2 separate regions of the Homo sapiens genome follow, and region 2 is linked to region 1. The links come from fine-mapping of genetic effects on gene expression. A gene starts in region 1. The other region holds a variant in brackets. All regions are shown on one strand. Distances are from middle to middle. Region 1 holds the start of ZNF275 (zinc finger protein 275). Region 2 has its middle 20 kb from the start of PNMA6E.

Evidence for each region.
Region 2: its variant is fine-mapped to the expression of ZNF275 in pancreas (GTEx, PIP above 0.99).

The regions. Positions count from the first base shown.
Region 1 is chrX:153,332,020-153,337,388 of GRCh38, forward strand. ZNF275 (zinc finger protein 275) reads left to right here and starts at 2,134. Exons shown (of 4, transcript NM_001367757.1): 1 at 2,134-2,266; 2 at 4,615-4,691. The coding sequence starts at 4,661. It overlaps MIR12129 (microRNA 12129), which reads left to right and starts at 3,443; the gene lies at 3,443-3,518. RefSeq lists silencers at 1,928-2,297, 2,388-2,467.
Region 2 is chrX:153,379,031-153,384,399 of GRCh38, forward strand. No RefSeq gene overlaps it. Among named protein-coding and RNA genes, the nearest start is that of PNMA6E, 20 kb to the right of the region's middle. The variant C/T (reference allele first, on the strand shown) is at 2,774.

The sequences.
Region 1 (5,369 bases):
TTCATACGTGTGTGTGTGTGTGTGTGTGTGTGTGTGTGTGTGTGAAAGCTTATCAAGTTGTTTAGCTGAAACATGACAAATTCACAGTTTATTGTCTGTCAAATATATCTCAGTGTAAACAGACAACCTACAGAATGGGAGAAAATCACCTGACAAAGGTCTAATATCCAGAATATAACCCCATCAAAAAATGGGCAAAAGACGTGAACAGACACTTCTCAAAAGAAGACATACAAGTGGCCAAAAAACATATGAAAAAAATGCTCTCATCACTAATCATCAGAGAAATGCAAATCAAAACCACAATGGGACACTATCTCACTCCAGTGAGAATGGCCATTATTTAAAAGTCAAAAAATAAGAGATGCTGGAGAGACTGTGGAGAAAAGGGGATACTTATACACTGCTGATGGGAATGTAAATTATTTCAGCCACTGTGGAAAGCAGTTTGGAGATTTCTCAAACAACTTATAACAGAGCTACCATTTGACCCAGCAATCCCAGTACTGGGTATATACTCAAAGGAAAATAAATCATTCTACCACCAAGACACATGCACCTGTATGGTCATCACAGCACTATTCACAATAGCAAAGACGTGGAATCAACCTAGGTGATCATCAGTGGTGGATTGGATAAAGAAAATGTGGTAGGCATTCACCACAGAATGCTATGCAGCCATAAAAAAAGAATGAAATCATGTCCTTTGCAGCAACATGGATGCAGCTAGAGGCTGTTATCCTAAGTGAATTAATGCAGGAACATAAAACCAAATGCCACACATTCTCATTTATAAGTGGGAGCTAAACATCGGGTACTCGTGCGCATAAAGATGGGAACAACAAACAATGGGAACTACAAGAGGGGTCAGGGAAGGAGGGGTCAAGGGTTTAAAAACTAACTATTGTGTACTATGTTCAGTACTTGGATGACAGGGTCATTCGTACCCCAAACCTCAACATCACACACTATACCCAGGCAACAAACCTGCACATGTACCCCCTAAATCTAAAATGAAAGTTGAAAACATAAAATTTCTCAGGAACTACATGTGTGTGTATATATATATACATACATACACACACACATATATACACACACATTGCACATAATGGGCTAGCTTTCTCTTTTGTCTCTCTCTCTATATATACACACACACATATATATACATATATATATACTGCACATAACATTGGGCAAACTACTTGAACAGACACTTTACAAAGAAAGATATAGAAATGGCCAGTGAGCACATAAAAGCATACTCAACATAATTAGTCATCAGGGAGATGATAATTGAAATAACAATGAGATGCCACTTCCCACCCTTTCAAATGGCTAAAAATAAAGGCTGACAACCTCAAATGTTGATGAGGATGGGAAAGAAAAGGAGCTCGCATACATTTCTGGTGGGAATGTAAATTGCACAACCACTTTGGAATACATTCTGGCAGTTTCTTATAAAACATAAAACTATCCTGTGATGTGGCAATTCATCTCTTAGGTATTTGCCCAAGAAAAATGAAAGCATATGTCCACACAAAGATGTGTACATGAATATTCATAGTAGCTTTATTTATAATCGCCCAAACTGGAAACAGCCCAGATCATAACCTGGTGAATGAACAAACCAACTCTGATATATCCAAACAATAGCATACTACTCAGCGATAGCACATTCAACAACATAGATAAATCTTGAAAACATCACGTTGAATGAAAGAATCCAGACACACAATAGTACATACGATCTGATTCCATTCATACAGAATACTGGCTTTCCAGTCTTCGCCCTCAGTTCCCGACCCTTCACTCCCCCCACCACCATCTTGAAGATGCCCAAGGGGGAGAGGTCCCTTCCATTCCTTCGTTCCTTCCTTCGTCTGCTGGTCGATTTGTTCGCTCGTTCATTCATTCATTCGCACGCTCATTCCACTCCTCCCCACCTCCACCCAAGCGTCCAGCCCGCGCGCGCCGCTCCCCCGCAGGCTGATCAGACTTGCCTGCCCAGTCCGCCCCCGCCCAAACCCCGCCCCCTTCCCGCCACGCCCCCTTCCCGGGCCAATCGGGGACGAGACTGGGGCCGGGGCGGGGCCTCGCTCCCTCAGAACCCCCGGCGGCGCTCACGGCTCCGGAAACGCGCCGCGGGGCTGTTAGCTCGGCTGGGCACGGGCGGCTCCGTGGCGCTTCCTGCCACGCCAGGCCTGCCTGGGCCGCGCCAGCGCCGCTCCACCGAGGGCCGCGCGTCGGCCGCCGCCGGGCCTGGGTGAGTGTGCGGGCCGCGGGAGGATGTGCGGGGGGCGCTGGAGGGGCCGCAGGGCGGAGGTGATCGTGGGGGCGGCAGGAGGACGTGTGGACCTGAGTGAGCGTGCAGGGCCGCGAGAGGATGTGCAGGGGGTGCAGGACTGTGTGCGGGGCTGGAGCGAGTGTGCGGGCCGCAGAAGAGTGCACGGTGGAGGGAGGGGGCGTCTCTGGGCAGTTGGAGAGCTGCTCGGCCTTGGGCGGGCCAGAGCAGGGAACGGGTCCCGGATGACGAGTACGAAGAGGCCCGAAGGCCTTCCCGAGGCGGGCGGGGGGCGGCGATCCCGGGTGGGAATCGCTAAAGTGTAGAGGCCTGCTCTGCTCTTTGGGGGACGCTAGGAGATGGGAACCGCTCAGGGGCGGAGAGAAAGGACCCCTGCCCCTAGCTCCTAGGAGCCCGATCTGGAGGGGGCATTGTAGGGGTGGGGGTTAAAGGACTTTTCCCTGGTCTAGGGGAGGGACTGAGCCGCAGTCTGGGAGCTGGGAGGGTGGGCCAGGTGGGAACAGTTCCCGCTGGGGAGTCCCTCCTTTCCTTTTGAGTGGGTGGGAGTGGGGGGGGGCGGTTAAGCCTCAGCTTGGTGGGGAGAATGGGGGCCGGTAGGTAGCCTAGAGAGAGAGCTGTGGAGAGGCAGGGGAAAGGGGGCGGTGAGCCGAGCTCAAGGCCCTCTGTCTGAACCAGTCTTTTTCTGTCGCCCTACTGGGGGCCGCCATCTCCCACTTCAGTGCCCCCGCCCCCTTAAACTCCTTTGCTGGCTCCTCCAGTCTATATTTGGGTGATTAATTATATATCTTTTCCACACACACCCCCCACTCGCCTGCCGCCCAAAGTCCATGGTCCCTTTCAAACAACCCCCTGCCCCCATTCCTGGCCCACTTCCCAGAGGTCCCACCCTGCCACCTTGTTCCAACTGAAGCCCTCCAGCCAGCCTTGACCTAGCTGGGCATGCGGCCCCCTCCAGTCTCCTTAGTCAATGAAACATTTCCTCTTCAACCTCAGCCCGACATTTTTCCTTTACAAGAGAATTTCAGATGGGATTGCTGGAACAGCACCTCCCCTAGGTACTAATGCTGCCTCAGCCCCTCCCCACCCTCACCTTCCCCCAACCCTGCAACATTGGACCTTCAAGTAGAAGCCACTTGCACAGTATCTGGCCCAGTTCAGTACATCCCCACAAAATGTTACTAGGGGGATGTACTGAACTGGGTCAGACACTGAGTTTTATATATAGAACCCTATTGAGCAGTAATTTGCAGCCTTCTGTCTGTGAGGGACCCCTTGGAAATCTACCAGAACTTGTGAATTCTCTTCTAACCATCAGCACAGACTCAGAGATAGTGGGCTCCCATTTCAGCAGGTTCCTGGGCAGGAATCCTGTCAGTAACAGAGATTCTGAGAGTTGGAGAATCTGGGAACCTCCAGATTCTAGACAGGCCCAGTGTTAAGGAGGTGCAGCTCTGCATCATAATCTCCTGGGGTGCTTGTTGAAAAATGCAGACTCCTTGGTCTCTCCCAAACCTGCGAAACTCCCACATGAGTTCTTAGTGAACTCCACACCAACTTTCTCACCCAGTGATCCAGCCCTTACCCAAACCTGCCTGGGCTCCTTGGATGGCCCTGGGCTCTTTGCAATTTGCATAGCATCCCACCCCACCCCCAATTTCGACCTTTGTATCCAGGCGATGTTACCTAAAGGAAGCTATACTTAAAATTTATTTCGATTTTTAGTAAGATGCCATGAATCTTCTTGGAGAAATGGGAACACAAAGCTTTCCTCAATTAAGTACAACAAACACTACAAAATCCCCTTCTGGTCTACCTTCTGGCTTTTTATAGAAAGGAAATAAGATAGAAACCCAAACAGAAAGAGACAGGTGCCCAGGCAAAGTGAGAGGAAACAGATGCCTTCCCACCCACACATACAGAAAAAGGCACACACAGACACAAATACCCCAAGAGAGACAGACTTTCCTGGTGAGACACCCTCTCTTTAGGCCCTTCAGGATTCTGCTACTTCGAGTAGCAGCCTGTTTGCTGCTTTGGGACGGGACGGGATGGGCCCACGTGGGGCCTTCACTTCCGCCTCCTGGCCTGTCAGGTGGAAAGAACATGAAGGCCAGGCTCAGCGTGGCCCAGGGCTTGGCTCAAGGGTTGCATCCTGGCCTGGCTAGGGTGGATCCAGATCGTGGCAGTATATATTCAGTTGAACCCTGTATCTGGCCCAGTTCAGTACATCCCCCAAAATGTGGGGGACATGTTCCTGGGAGGTGCACACAGGTCTGCTTCTGTTCACCTGAATTATTGCAATCCAACAGATGGGGCCTTACCTGCCAGGCTGATCCCTTGGAGTAGTTCTGAGGCATGATGAGTCATCCGTGTGTGTCTCTTTTGGGTAAGTCTGGGTGTTTATGCATGGTGTCTGCTGGCTTTGACGCTGGGCATGCTATCAGAAGACCCTATAGGTGGGGTTACAACATGGTGAGGAGTATCGTTTTGGTTCCGGAAGCACTTATATTTTCATCTGTGCCACTGTTGCTGAACTGTCTTTGCCCAGAGACAGTTCTCTCAATCCAAGCAATACAACTCACAGGAGAAAAGATATTCAGGAAAGAGAATCTGGAGTCTAATCTCCCTTTTGGATGGGAGAGGGAGCTGAAGGCATCCATCTGAATTGGATCTTTTGTGAGTGGAAACCTTTGAAGACACCCGTTGCTCTGGCCTAGAACTGAGCAGAACACAAGCCACCTGTTGTCTTCTGGGTAAACTCAAGCTTTAGGGCCTGAGGACATTCTGCTCCAGGTCTTTATTTAGATGCTTCAGAGAGTCCAGGTGTTTCTGGCACCCCTTGGAAGCTTCTGGAACCTTCCAGAGGAGCCTTATTTGGGTGGTCTTGCTGCCTTTCCCCTGCCCAGGGAAGGACAGCGCACCTGTTAGAGAATGTTGCTTGGCTATTTGTGCGATAAAATCAGTTGAACGCTGGTCTTTAGGCTCAGAAGCTACCGTTAGCCAGTAGCCAAACATCCAGCAGTGAGGCAGGGATGTTCTTAATCCAAAGGCAACCAGAAAACAT
Region 2 (5,369 bases), 47 kb after region 1:
ATTCGCCTATACATCACTGTCACCACTTGTAGTTGTCACCTAACTGGGAAGTTACTTTTTAATGTCTAGACCACTGCCTCCACAAGGGCAGGAAGGCTGGCGGATCTTGGCTCACTGCTGTACCCCAGCACCCAGCATAGTGCCTGCCCTGGCACACAGTGGGGACTCAGTGAATGGGGGTGGGGGATGGGTGCATTCGCTTTCATCCTCTGCCTGTAGGTCCTCAGTTGCGGTTTCATGGAGCGGCCACGTTGAAGGCAGGGGAACAAGGGGTGGCGGGAAGTGCTGAAGGGGCGGTTGAGGGGCAGTCCTGGAGTCTGCATGGTGAAGAAAGGAGGCCTGGAAGAGGTTGGGGCCAAGGTAGGCGGGGACAAGGGCTGTTGCTCTCTCCCATCAAGGTCACGGGGATGTAGAGGAAGGAAGAAGAGGCTTCCATTGAGAAAGGGTGCTTGGGAGTGGGAGGTCGGTGGGCAGGTCCAGGGTGCACCCATGAGAGTGCGGGAGCAAGGGGGATAAACAACAGCAGGGACACTCCAGACAAGCATGACTAGATGGGGCAGGCCTAAAGGGGAGGAGTGCAGTGCCAGACGTGACATCGCAGGGCAGAGGGGGTGCGGCCCCTTCGCCTTCCCACTGTGGCACATGGGGCCATGGCCTTGGATGCATGCCAGCCTTGCCCAAGGCAGGAGGTGGAGGAGAAGGCAGACGCAAGGGCCAAGGGCAGGGGCACAGTGGGAGGCCTGGGGGAGGAGGAGAGCCCAGGCAAGAATGCAGGGCCGGGAGGGAGTAGTGGGGAGAAGACTGCTGAGTGCCCACCTCCAAGGGCCGGGAGGTAAGGTGGAGGGATCACTGGGGTCACCTGGATGCCGAGAGTGGGGTGTAGAGGGAGTTTTCCATCTCCTTGGCCAAACTCTGAGTTCTATGTCTGTGCCCTGAGCTCCTAACCCGGGGCCAGCCCAAGTGGGTGCTCCACGCATGGTTGTGTCATCAACACCTACTGCACAGAGGCAGAGGCTAAGGGCTGGGGTGCCTCGAGAACCCTCATGAAGCTCGTGGCCTCAAGAGAGAAAGAGATGGGCATCATGCCAGGAAAGAAGTGGGGCCTGAAGCAATCTTGCTGGTGACAGGAGCTCTGAGGATAGCAGGGATCTGTCACAAATCTTGCTGGTGACAGGAGCTCTGAGATAGCAGGGATCTGTCACAAGCTCTAACACGTCAGAGCCACTCGTGACACTCACCAATGTGAGCCTCTGTTTCCTAACATGTCCAACCATTTCCATCCTGCCTGCTGCACGAGGCCGTGGCCCATGTGCCCCTCTTCTGTAGAACGCTCTCTTGCCTCGCTCAGGTTTCAGATTCAGGGTCACCTACTCAGAGCCCCTTCCTGGAGCCCAGCTGCCAGTCATCTTTGTCCTGCTGGGTCACTTCACAGTACTTCTCCCAGTCCGTTCTTTTTTGATGGCCACCTCCATGCGTCCCCTGGGCTCTCTGGAGCCACATCCACCCAGCTTACCAGTGTGTCCCAGGACCCAGCCCCCGAGGAATCAGCAAAGGGAATGGCTTGTAAGGAGGAAATGAAGTGAGGTGAGGAAAAGCGCCCAGCACTGCATCTGCTACAAAGCGCTTCTGGCATTTCCTTGAACCATGAGATGCAAACAGATTGTAAGTTTAGGAAAGAGGAAAGTTGGTAACCAAAGCAGTGGAGCTGAGAGGGTTTCCTGGCAGGCGGGCTGTAATCCCTGGCCCGCATGGCCACGGAAGCTGCCTGCAGCCCTTCCTGGGCAGCCGTGCACAGACTGGCGGCCCCAGCCTAAGTCACAGGACTCTGAGTTAGAGCATGTTTCTGTTGGCCGAGCTGTCACCCAGGATAGCTGTCCTTGTCAGCACTGGCCATCCTCCCAGTTCTCAATCTCGAGGCCTCGGGGCTCTGCAATAGAAGCCACCAAAGCAGGTGGAAAAGAGGTCAGCTGACCTTCAAGGGGCCACTGAGGGCGGCCTTCAGGCCAGAGGGTGAGACAGAGGTGGCCTGTGAGGGCACCAGGCACCCAATGGGGATGTGCGCTGGGCTATTTGAATCTTTTGACAAAATCTGTCACCTAGCTCCTCTGGGCATCAGCAGAAGGTGAGGGTGACCTCCCCAGGTGATCTCGGCCTCCTTTCTGGCTGGATACTGGTGACGTGAATACAATGCAGCTGGGCCCCCCAGAGACCCATCACCTGCCATTGTCTGGGAGGTGGACTTAAAACTGACTTTCAAGGCCTCAGACAGGCACCAAAGGCCTTTTCTCCTGGGAAGCAACAGTGGGGTTGGAGGAGTCCCAGGGGAGACGGTTCAGCTATTCACCTTCATGAAGACCTCACCCCACAGGCTGGAGGGCCCCAGTTCCTACTTCTCTCCTTCAGCCCAAGCCAGAGGCCTTGGGGACTCAGACCCACAGACCGCATAATGGCCCCAAGCCCAAGCTTACTGAAATAGAGGAGGCCCTGCTGCCTCTCTCTGATTTCAGGGGGCCAGAGAAGAGAGGTGTGAGAGCTAGGGGGTCACCAACAGTTGATCTTGGGCTGAGAAATTAGGAAAAAGATCAAATCCTAAATGACAAGATTTTCTTCTAGAACTACCATTCGCCTTTCTTGGTCCACAGTGAGCTCAGATGGACTAGGAGCATCGCAGGGCTTGTTTATATAGGGAAATGCTCCTGGCGTGGATTTGTGGACTGAGCTAAACTCCTGAAGCCAGGGCAGGTGGAAAGGCTCCTGTCATGTGCACGTTTGT[C/T]TACCAGTGGCGCCATGTGCCTGGCTGGCTCTGGCTGGCCAGTTACATATGTTGAACTACCAGGGGCTCTGTGTCTTTTAAGGACATGATTCCAGATTCCACTGGAGTCAAACCTATTTCGTGGTGCAGAGTCGCTGGGCAACTAGCAATCTGCATGTGGTTTTCATCGCAAATCTCATCTCCCATGTCAGATGAGTAGTCTGCTGTTGCCGTGGTGAATCAGTATTATACTGTGACCTTGATTCTGGGCAGAAATGTACGTTGCCTTGACCATGATTACACAAAATACGTTGTCTAGGAAACAGCACAGTTCCGAGAACAGGAAGGGCTAGATAATTCTTGGCTTTGCTTGGAAGCCACACAGTGTTACCTTGTACCCAGCGGGGTCTCAGCTTTCCTTGGAGGCCCCTCTGCTGTCTCTGTGTGTGACACAGACAGAGAGGCAGGACAGAGCCAGGGACAGACAGAAAGGGGGAAACATCAGAAAGTCACAGGCTAGGGTGAGCCTCTGCAGCTGCTGTGTGAGAGCTGCTGGGGAGGGGGCCAGGCTTCTGGCCTCTTGCCCAGTCTCTGTCACCCAATGCAGTTCCAGGACTGGGGAGGTGTGGCACTGTGGGAGGGCATCACCCACCTCTGGGAAATGTTGGTTGCCTGGCTCCATCTATGGGAAGCTCTGCAAATACATGCACCACAAACCCCCCAAATTCCCCACACACAAACACACACACCATACACCCCACACACACCACACATGAACACACAAACACACCACACATGAACACACACACCACACAGACCACACACAGCACACACCACGTACATCCCACACATGAACACATGCCACACACCTCACATGAACACACACTACACACATCACACATGAACACACACCACATATGAACACACACACATCACACACACCACACATGAACACACACCATACACCACATACCACATGGACCACACACATGAACACACACCCCACACACCCCACATAAATACACCACACATGAACACACACACAGCACACATGAACACATACACACTACATACACTCCCCACATGAACACACACACCCCCCATATGAACACACATACCATATACCTCACATACCCCACATGAACACACCCTCCACATAGTCCCATATGAACACACACACCCTACACATGAACACGCACACACCACACATGAACACACACCCTGCACACCACACATGAACACATACACCCCACATGCCACACATGAACACACACCACACACAGTTCCCTGCATGAACACACACACCACACACACCTCACTTGAACACACACACCACATACACCACACACGAAAACACACCCCACACAACCCACACCACACATGAACACAAATACACCACACACAAACACACACATCACATAGACCACACACACACCCCCACACACCACACATGAAGACACACACCCTACACATGAACACACATATCACACAACCTCCACACATGAACACACACACCCCACATGAACACATACACTACACACACCCCACATGCATCCCCACATGAAAACACACAACACACATGGAAAACACTCCACACAGCCAACACACACCACACATGAACACAAACACACCACATGTGAACACACATCACACCCCACACACACCACACAGACCACACACACCCTACACACACTACACATGAACACACACAGACACACCCTACTCATGAACACACACATTACACAACCCCACACATGAAAACTCACACGCCCCACAGCCTGCACCCCCTATACAGCCCACACCACACACACACCACACACCCCACATACACCACACACACCCCACATGAACACACAAACCACACATGAACACACACACCACACATGAATACACACACCACACATGAACACACAGATCACACACACACCACACATGAACACACACCACACACCCCACATGAACACACACACACGATATATGAACAAACACACCACAACCACACCCACACATGAACACATGCACCACACATGAACACAGCACACACATGAACACACACCACACACCACACAGACCCCCCACGTGAATACACACACACCAGACACACCACACACACACACACAGGCACACATGCACCCCATGCCAGGGGCAGACTGACACGAGAGTAGCATCTGGAGCCTGGAGTCCATTTCTCTCCCCTTATAAGGCATTCACTCCCTCAACGCTCTCCCAGCATGATGGCGGAAGTGAGAGACCGAACCCAGAGGAGAAGGCTGTCAAGGCGAGGTCTGCGCCCTGGCAGAGGCTGCCCACAGGGGGAAAGGTGGTGCTGTACCTGGTTGACTTCCAGTCCAATGTCTTGCTCATCCCCCCGCTCACCATGGGTTCTTCCATGCCAGCAGCCCAGGCTGAACCCCTCAGCGTCATCCAGAAACCCCCACCCCACCAGGCACCTCGCTCATTACTCATGAACTCCTGCTATCTGGGCCCCTCAGCAGCCCCCAACCCATCCACCACTCCTCTCCACACTGCCTGCCACCTCCTCAGACCAGGCCCGTAGCCCCACTCACTCGCACGCAGGAGGAGCACAGCAAATACTCCTTGAATCAATAACTGAGAA